2 linked regions of the Homo sapiens genome follow. The protein of the gene in region 1 interacts with the protein of each later gene in a biochemical or structural test. Each region holds a gene or a part of one and is shown in the gene's direction. Other genes may lie near its edges.

Region 1 (4,129 bases):
TTGCTTGGACATGCTCTCAGGAAGATAAAAACCATGGAGAAACACTAGGCCATTGACAAATGATCTGAGACAACTTTAGAAAACAATGTAGGATGAATGGAAAGAGAAAGAAAGGAAAGAAAGAAGAAAAAGAAAGAAGGAAAGAAAGAAAGAGAAAGGAAGGAAGGAAAGAAGGAAGGAAAAGAAGGAAGGAAGGAAGGAATATAGTGTTATAAATACTGCACTCAACATTTTCCAAATTCTTGCCATTATTTTTCAAAAGTTTAATAGTTTGCAGAAATAGATACTCAAGCCAAAGTCTGTTTTAGAGAAACTTTCCATGGAAAGTCAGAATTTCTACCACTTCCTTTTCTATCCACATTTCCAGTGCAGAAGAAACTGAGAAACAGAGCTTTTTGAAGAGAGGACAGGGCCATAGCAACAAGGACCTTCTTGGGGGATTAATGGGAGGTCAGTAGAATTAATAACCCTCCTTGGATGAGTGCTACTGTTTTCACATGGCTTCAGATGCTATCAACCTCAAAGAAATGATCTCAACAGAGAAGCTTATTCTCTCCCAACTTCTACGGTAAAATCCAGGAGTATTTTCTCTGGGGATCTGCCCACAGGACAAAGTCCATAAAAGCAAGTCCTGTCTGGACCATGTGGTTATCTGAAGCATTAGCCATCACCAGCACAACAAACGGGGCAGGGCTTTCCAAGGTGGGGCTGGTCAGAAGGGAATCTTTGATAAGAGGCCCACAGGCAGGGAAAGCGAAATAGGGTTGATGAGACCAGGGGAGACCTAAAAAAAAGGCAGCTTTGTGTCTTCTAGCTCCAAATATACCTGCCTTTTAGCTCACACACTGTCCTGGAGTTCTCAGACCTTTAGGGGCCCTAACACAGTTCAGTTCATACAGGGGTTCAAAAGGGACAGTGGCCCATTTGGGAGACCTTTAGGATCAATGGGAATCAATTCCATTGTTTTGCCTCAGAGTAAAGTTTCTGGCTCGGGGACAATTATAAGTTGCAAAAAGGATAGAGGCATATCCCAAGTCTTCCTTCATTCCACAAATAATTACAAACAACCTACTGTGTGCCAGGCACTATTCTTAGCACTGGAAATACACTAGTGAAGAAGCAGATGAGGACCCTGTTTATTGTTTCTCTCCAAGAAATTCTCCAAGAATATTGTTTCTTGGAGAGAAATAATAAATAAACAAGACAATTTCTGAAAGCAATAAGTGCAATCAAGATAATTAAAGGATGCTAAAGTGTGACTTGTGGGGATTGGGAGAGAGATGCACAGACAATATTAAAGAGGAGGCATTCGAGCTTTGTTGTGAACACCGGAAGTAACATGCCGAGCGCCTGGGGGATGGAAACTCCTATAGCACCCCACAGGCTAACAGCAAGCAGGACAAGACAAAAAGGGCAGGTGGGACATGGTAGAGATGGACCCTACCCAGGAAACAGCTCCATCAGCATCTTAGCCTGCCCCACTCTAGCCACACATACCCACGTGTGCTCCTGAGTTCAGTGTGCCCACCTCACTCCCACACCCTCACATAGACTTGGCAAGAGTAAGGAGGGAACTCCATAGAGACATTTTACCTATCTCAGGGGAGCAGCCACAAAGAAGCAAGTCTTGTAAAAGGTCTTTTGCAAAGGAGAGTGAACCCAGCAATGAGAGATCCTTAACAGCTAGTGCCCATTAGGGGGCTAAACCTAAAGCCTGGGTGGTGATGGCTCAAACGCTAATGAGTCAGTGAATCCTTACCGACCCCCTGGCCTTTATAATCTGAGGCAACTTTGGCTGCAGCCCGGGAATGTGCAGGGCACTAGGGAATACAAGGCCTTCTTCCCTGGTTGTCTTGTAATAAAACAGCCATGGGGTTGTCCCTCCAGTCCGAGAGACTGTGATGAGGCCTACATAGCAGCGATGTGGTCAGGTAAAAATCAGGAACCCACTGAAATCTTGGGCAAGCCACCCTGCCTGCTTGTGCCTCGGTTCTCTCATATGTCATATATAGGAGGTGAGGACTCCAGCTCCACCTGCCCCAGGTGGGTGTGGTGATGATGAGGAAAGACAAGAGGCTTGCAAGGACCCTGAAGAGGTCGGAGCATCATACAGATTCCTTTATTAGCCCACATTCTGATGTTCCCTGGTGAGACTTGCCCCAAGCAATTGCTAGTAAATGGGGGTTAATTTCTTCTCCACCTCCCTACTGAACAAAAAAAGAAATGCCAGACTTACTAGGAGAATCGAGTTGCTTTGAGTTTCTTTTGTTTTGTTTTGTTTTGTTTTGTTTTAAGGCTCCCCTTACACACCCTCCTTTAAGCTTTGGGTTTTCTCTCTTATAGTTTGTTGACACATGCTAAAAATGTCTTTGGAGAGAACTTCTGCCTGATAAACACCCAATTCTAGACTGTGGGTGGATTTTCGAGCTGACGGTGGTCAATTCCTTTCATTAAGCAGTGATCTGATTTCTCCACATGGCCATTCTGCCTTCTTGGGGGCAGAGTAGATGGGCAGCAGTTCACCTTTTCAGAGAAAGAGGTCTTCTAGCCACCTGGGCTGCTACTGAATGGTTTTCTCCAGGACGCTCTACCTAATGATTATTTCTATAACATTAAGCATGGTAATAAGTAGCTTCCAATTCAATTCATCCTAAAGCCAAAGAAAATACAGCAACACACACACACACACACACACACACACACACACACACACACACACACCACTTTATGGCAATTCTTAACTGACATTCAATGACTTACTTCTTTTCTTAGAAAATTTCCACCACATTTCTATCCCCAAGCCAACATACAATGTGAAATGAAAGCCAGTGCGTGGAGTGCAGCTGCTAAAAATTTTCAGCACAGGGCTCTTTCTGACTCTGCTCATGAGATGGTATCAGCCACCCAATGACTGGCGTATCTTGGTCCTGTGTCTTTCTTCTTACGCTGTGTTAATGTGTTTACTTTCCATTTGGCAGAGAGACAAGAGAGACACCTCCAACTTCGACAAAGAGTTCACCAGACAGCCTGTGGAACTGACCCCCACTGATAAACTCTTCATCATGAACTTGGACCAAAATGAATTTGCTGGCTTCTCTTATACTAACCCAGAGTTTGTCATTAATGTGTAGGTGAATGCAAACTCCATCGTTGAGCCTGGGGTGTAAGACTTCAAGCCAAGCGTATGTATCAATTCTAGTCTTCCAGGATTCACGGTGCACATGCTGGCATTCAACATGTGGAAAGCTTGTCTTAGAGGGCTTTTCTTTGTATGTGTAGCTTGCTAGTTTGTTTTCTACATTTGAAAATGTTTAGTTTAGAATAAGCGCATTATCCAATTATAGAGGTACAATTTTCCAAACTTCCAGAAACTCATCAAATGAACAGACAATGTCAAAACTACTGTGTCTGATACCAAAATGCTTCAGTATTTGTAATTTTTCAAGTCAGAAGCTGATGTTCCTGGTAAAAGTTTTTACAGTTATTCTATAATATCTTCTTTGAATGCTAAGCATGAGCGATATTTTTAAAAATTGTGAGTAAGCTTTGCAGTTACTGTGAACTATTGTCTCTTGGAGGAAGTTTTTTGTTTAAGAATTGATATGATTAAACTGAATTAATATATGCAAGCTCTTGTTTATATGTCTTTTCTTAAATAGACTATGTTACAGAGGTTACAGACTGAAGATCCAGTTTGTAGCCATTAGATAAGCTTAATTTTACTCACATGGAATTTTACTTAATCAAAACCATTGTGAACATGACAAAATAAGATACTTTATATAAATTCCTGGACTTTTAGATTCCCTTGAAAAAAGAAACAAAAGACTAGCAGCTCTGAGCCTGTATTTCCACATGGAAATAATTCTACAGAACTGAGAAATGCTTCTCCTTTAAAAGCAGTGTATGTTCTCATTTTGCCACAGTCTCCACCACCCCCTATTGTCTTATACCCTCCATCCACTTCCCTGGCTGCTATAGCCACTTGAGGTTGAAACCTCTGTCATTCGTGAGTCACAGGTTTGAGGACCTTAATATTTTCTTGTGCCCCTAATCAGGGTATGTGTGCAGCCACCCACTCAATGTGATTCGTGTTTATTAAGCTATGTATCAAGCACAAGATATGTAA
Region 2 (3,500 bases), on another chromosome or scaffold:
GCAATGGTCCCTTTGTGTGGGGGTGTCCCTCCCAATCTAGACTGGAAGCTCCTTGAGGGCAGGGAGGCCGTTTTATGAGGATTTGCCTTCTCTATGGTACTTGGTCTGTGCACATGGTAGATGCTCTGGAATGTTTGTTGAATAAGTAAGTAAAGCTAGGAGGGCATTTGTAAAGAAGTGGGGGATGGCTGGGCCTCTGGAGAGCAAGCTCCTCTGAGTGTCAGTGGGTGCTCTGCATCTTCAGGTGAGAAAGCAGCTAGAGTTAGGGACCCATCTGGGGCTATCCAGAGGACAACAGCTCCCGTTGGGTTGCCTGTTTGGTGAGGACATTGGGTGGCATGGGTGAAATTTGGCATGCCATTTAAATAATCCTCTTGGGTCCTTCCATGCAGCTGGCCCAACTCTTGATTTGTTTTTATTGCTAATAAGAATTTTATTATTTCCATTTACTGAGTGTTTCCTTGGACACTATGCTAAGCACTGCATATAGATTGTCTTGGGAGGTTGATACTTTTATCAGTCCCATTTTGCGGATAGAGAAACTGAGGCTCAGAGAGATAAATAACTTGTTCAGGGTCACACCAGTAATAAAAACAGAAAAGCAGGATTTGAATTCATGTCCTTTGGACTGCAGTACCCAAGCTTTTCCTATCACATATGTGCTTACACTTTTCCTTCTTGTTTCCAATCATTACCTACCAGTAGCACAAGCCTAGGATCCCAGAATTATACCAGATCTGGGTGTTTGTATTTTGGCTTGTGTTCTTCCTGTGTTGCCCTGGCTAGCCTTGAACTCCTGGGTTCAAGCAGTTCTTCTGCCTCAGCCTCCTGAGTAGCTGGGACCACAGGTGTGCACCACCATGCCTGGCTCGACTTGTGTTTTTGATTGAGCCCTGGTGGAGGCAGATACATTCCCCAATGATCCAGCTGATCCCCCATGCCCCGGGCTGTTCATGGCTCTGGTATTTTTGCAGGTTTCTTTTTGGTGTATACAAGTCGGACAGTGGCACCATTCACAGTGGCCATTGCTCTAGAATGAAGAGATTGCACAGACTTGATTGGGTTTTCTTTCCTCTTTCTAAAAGTTTAGGATATGGTATTATTATCTACAGTATGATGGCATAACATATGGTTGGGGGCAGGAGCCGTAAATGGGTTAAATGGAACTATTGTTAGAAATGTGCTTCTGCCCATTTTTGTTTGTGTGTATGAAACACCTGCTAGTTTGTGCTTCTTCCTTTTGAAAGAGACAGAAGTATGTGACTTCTCTCTTGACTCCTTTACCAGTGGAAGAGCAATGCACACCGAGTGGCAGTTGACTTTCCACGAGTGCAGGGAACAAGAGGGAGGGCTGGGCACCCGGGTCACCTGGAGACAAGTGTGTCCCCCGCCTAGAGGAGCCAGTGGCTTTCCTGTTCCAGCCAATGCCTGGCAGGCTGGTGACCCAGAGCGGCTAGATTTTCCGCTCTTTCATCAGAAGCCCCTGCTTTGATTTCTATATGAAATTTCCTGATTTGTGAGTTGGACAACACATTTATAAATTAAAAGCAGACAAGATACCCTGTGGGCCAAACCAGTGCCTCTCGCATGAAACATGTCTGCAAGCTAGATGTGGCTTGTGGGCTGTTTGCAACCTCTGCTTTAAGGCTTTGGCTTATTTTCTTTGGCCTAGACACAAAGGATCAAGAACTTTAACCCTTTGGAAACCCAAGGGAAGAGTGTTGGTGGGGAGCCAGGAACCCGGGGTTCTGGCCTGGCCTCTGTCTTGTGTCCTAGGGCAGGTGATATCCCTGGGCCTCTGTTTTCTAATCTGTAAATTGGATCAGTTTGAACAGCTTGTCCCTGCTGTTCCCTTCCAGCCCTCTTCATTCTCAATAATCCCAATTAGTTATCAACGTTGCAAAAATTTGGCACCACATGTTTAGTGCCATATAAATTTAAAATCTCCGTTGGTAGGTCCTGTGTCTCCTAACAACCAAAACCCTCTCCCAAGGCAAGTACCACTTGGCAGCCGTAGCCAGTTGCCACTTGAGATTATTACTGGCCCCATTTAGGCCAATGTGATGCGATTTGAAACGTGCTTTTCTTATTCCAGCATTTGGTGTGGAAAAATGTTTGCATTTTTCATCCTGCTCTTTATTTTGTGACTACGCCACATGCTGGGTTTTCTTTTTGAATTTAGGCATAAATGAAATCTCGGAAGATGTCTATACGGCCGTAGAGCACAGCGATTCGGAGGATTCTGAGAAGTCAGATAGTAGCGATAGTGAGTATATCAGTGATGATGAGCAGAAGTCTAAGAACGAGCCAGAAGACACAGAGGACAAAGAAGGTTGTCAGATGGACAAAGAGCCATCTGCTGTTAAAAAAAAGCCCAAGCCTACAAACCCAGTGGAGATTAAAGAGGAGCTGAAAAGCACGTCACCAGCCAGCGAGAAGGCAGACCCTGGAGCAGTCAAGGACAAGGCCAGCCCTGAGCCTGAGAAGGACTTTTCCGAAAAGGCAAAACCTTCACCTCACCCCATAAAGGATAAACTGAAGGGAAAAGATGAGACGGATTCCCCAACAGTCCATTTGGGCCTGGACTCTGATTCAGAGAGCGAACTTGTCATAGATTTAGGAGAAGACCATTCTGGGCGGGAGGGTCGAAAAAATAAGAAGGAACCCAAAGAACCATCTCCCAAACAGGATGGTAAGTGATTGTATCTGTTTCCAGTTTTCTTAATTTGGTTTAGAATCCTACCTCGTACACTTACTATCAAAAGTTATGTGACCCTTAAAGAAACAAATCAGAAGTTATGTGACCCTCTAACACACTGAGAGAGAGGCACAGTGAAGCTGTGTTTGGTTTAAGGTTGCCTAGCTAGTCATAGAACAGGACCTGGACTCAAACATGGGCCTGCCTACCTTTAACCTGCTCGGTATCCAGTATGATTGATTTTGAGTACAGAAAGAGAAGTCTGTTAGAAAATGATGGTTACTTTTAGTGACCAAGTCATTTTTAGTCTGAGCAGCTTCTTTTCCAATATGCTCATTTATTTCCCCAAAGTGTTTGTTAACATTTGGATCTTGTCAAATGGTCCTTCAGTGCTGCATTCCACAGACATCTCATTCTCTTTTGACAAGTCTCAAACGGTTAGGAGTGTTCATTTCAAGCTGGGCATGGTGGCTCACGCCTGTAATCCCAGCACTTGGGGAGGCCGAGGCGGGTGGATCATTTGAGGTCAGGAGTTCAAAACCAGCTTGACCTACATAGTGAAACCCTGTCTCTACTAAAATACAAAAATTAGCGGGGCGTGGTAGCAGGCGCCTGTAATCCCAGCTACTCGTGAGGCGGAGGCAGGATAATCGCTTGAACCCAGGAGGCGGAGGTTGCAGTGAGCTGAGATTGCGCCACTGCACTCCAGTGTGGGTGGCAGAGCAAGACTCCCTCTCTAAAAAAAAAGCAGTGTTCATTTCAAAGGTTTTGATGATTTCAGCTTTGCTTTCCTCCCCTCATG

The links. Proteins that work in one complex are often made in the same cells at the same time.
Region 2: the proteins of PRKCB (region 1) and ZMYND8 form a complex in vitro, tested with the Homo sapiens proteins (one study listed by BioGRID).

The regions. Positions count from the first base shown.
Region 1 is NC_000016.10:24,216,983-24,221,111, forward strand, and holds the end of PRKCB (protein kinase C beta type), read left to right. Parts: 3' UTR 1-2,978; coding exon of another isoform or gene 2,979-3,131; 3' UTR 3,132-3,629; downstream 3,630-4,129. UniProt on the Homo sapiens protein: Calcium-activated, phospholipid- and diacylglycerol (DAG)-dependent serine/threonine-protein kinase involved in various cellular processes such as regulation of the B-cell receptor (BCR) signalosome, oxidative stress-induced apoptosis, androgen receptor-dependent transcription regulation, insulin signaling and endothelial cells proliferation.
Region 2 is NC_000020.11:47,245,200-47,248,699, reverse strand, and holds part of ZMYND8 (MYND-type zinc finger-containing chromatin reader ZMYND8), read left to right. Parts: intron 1-2,182; coding exon 2,183-2,692; intron 2,693-3,500. UniProt on the Homo sapiens protein: Chromatin reader that recognizes dual histone modifications such as histone H3.1 dimethylated at 'Lys-36' and histone H4 acetylated at 'Lys-16' (H3.1K36me2-H4K16ac) and histone H3 methylated at 'Lys-4' and histone H4 acetylated at 'Lys-14' (H3K4me1-H3K14ac).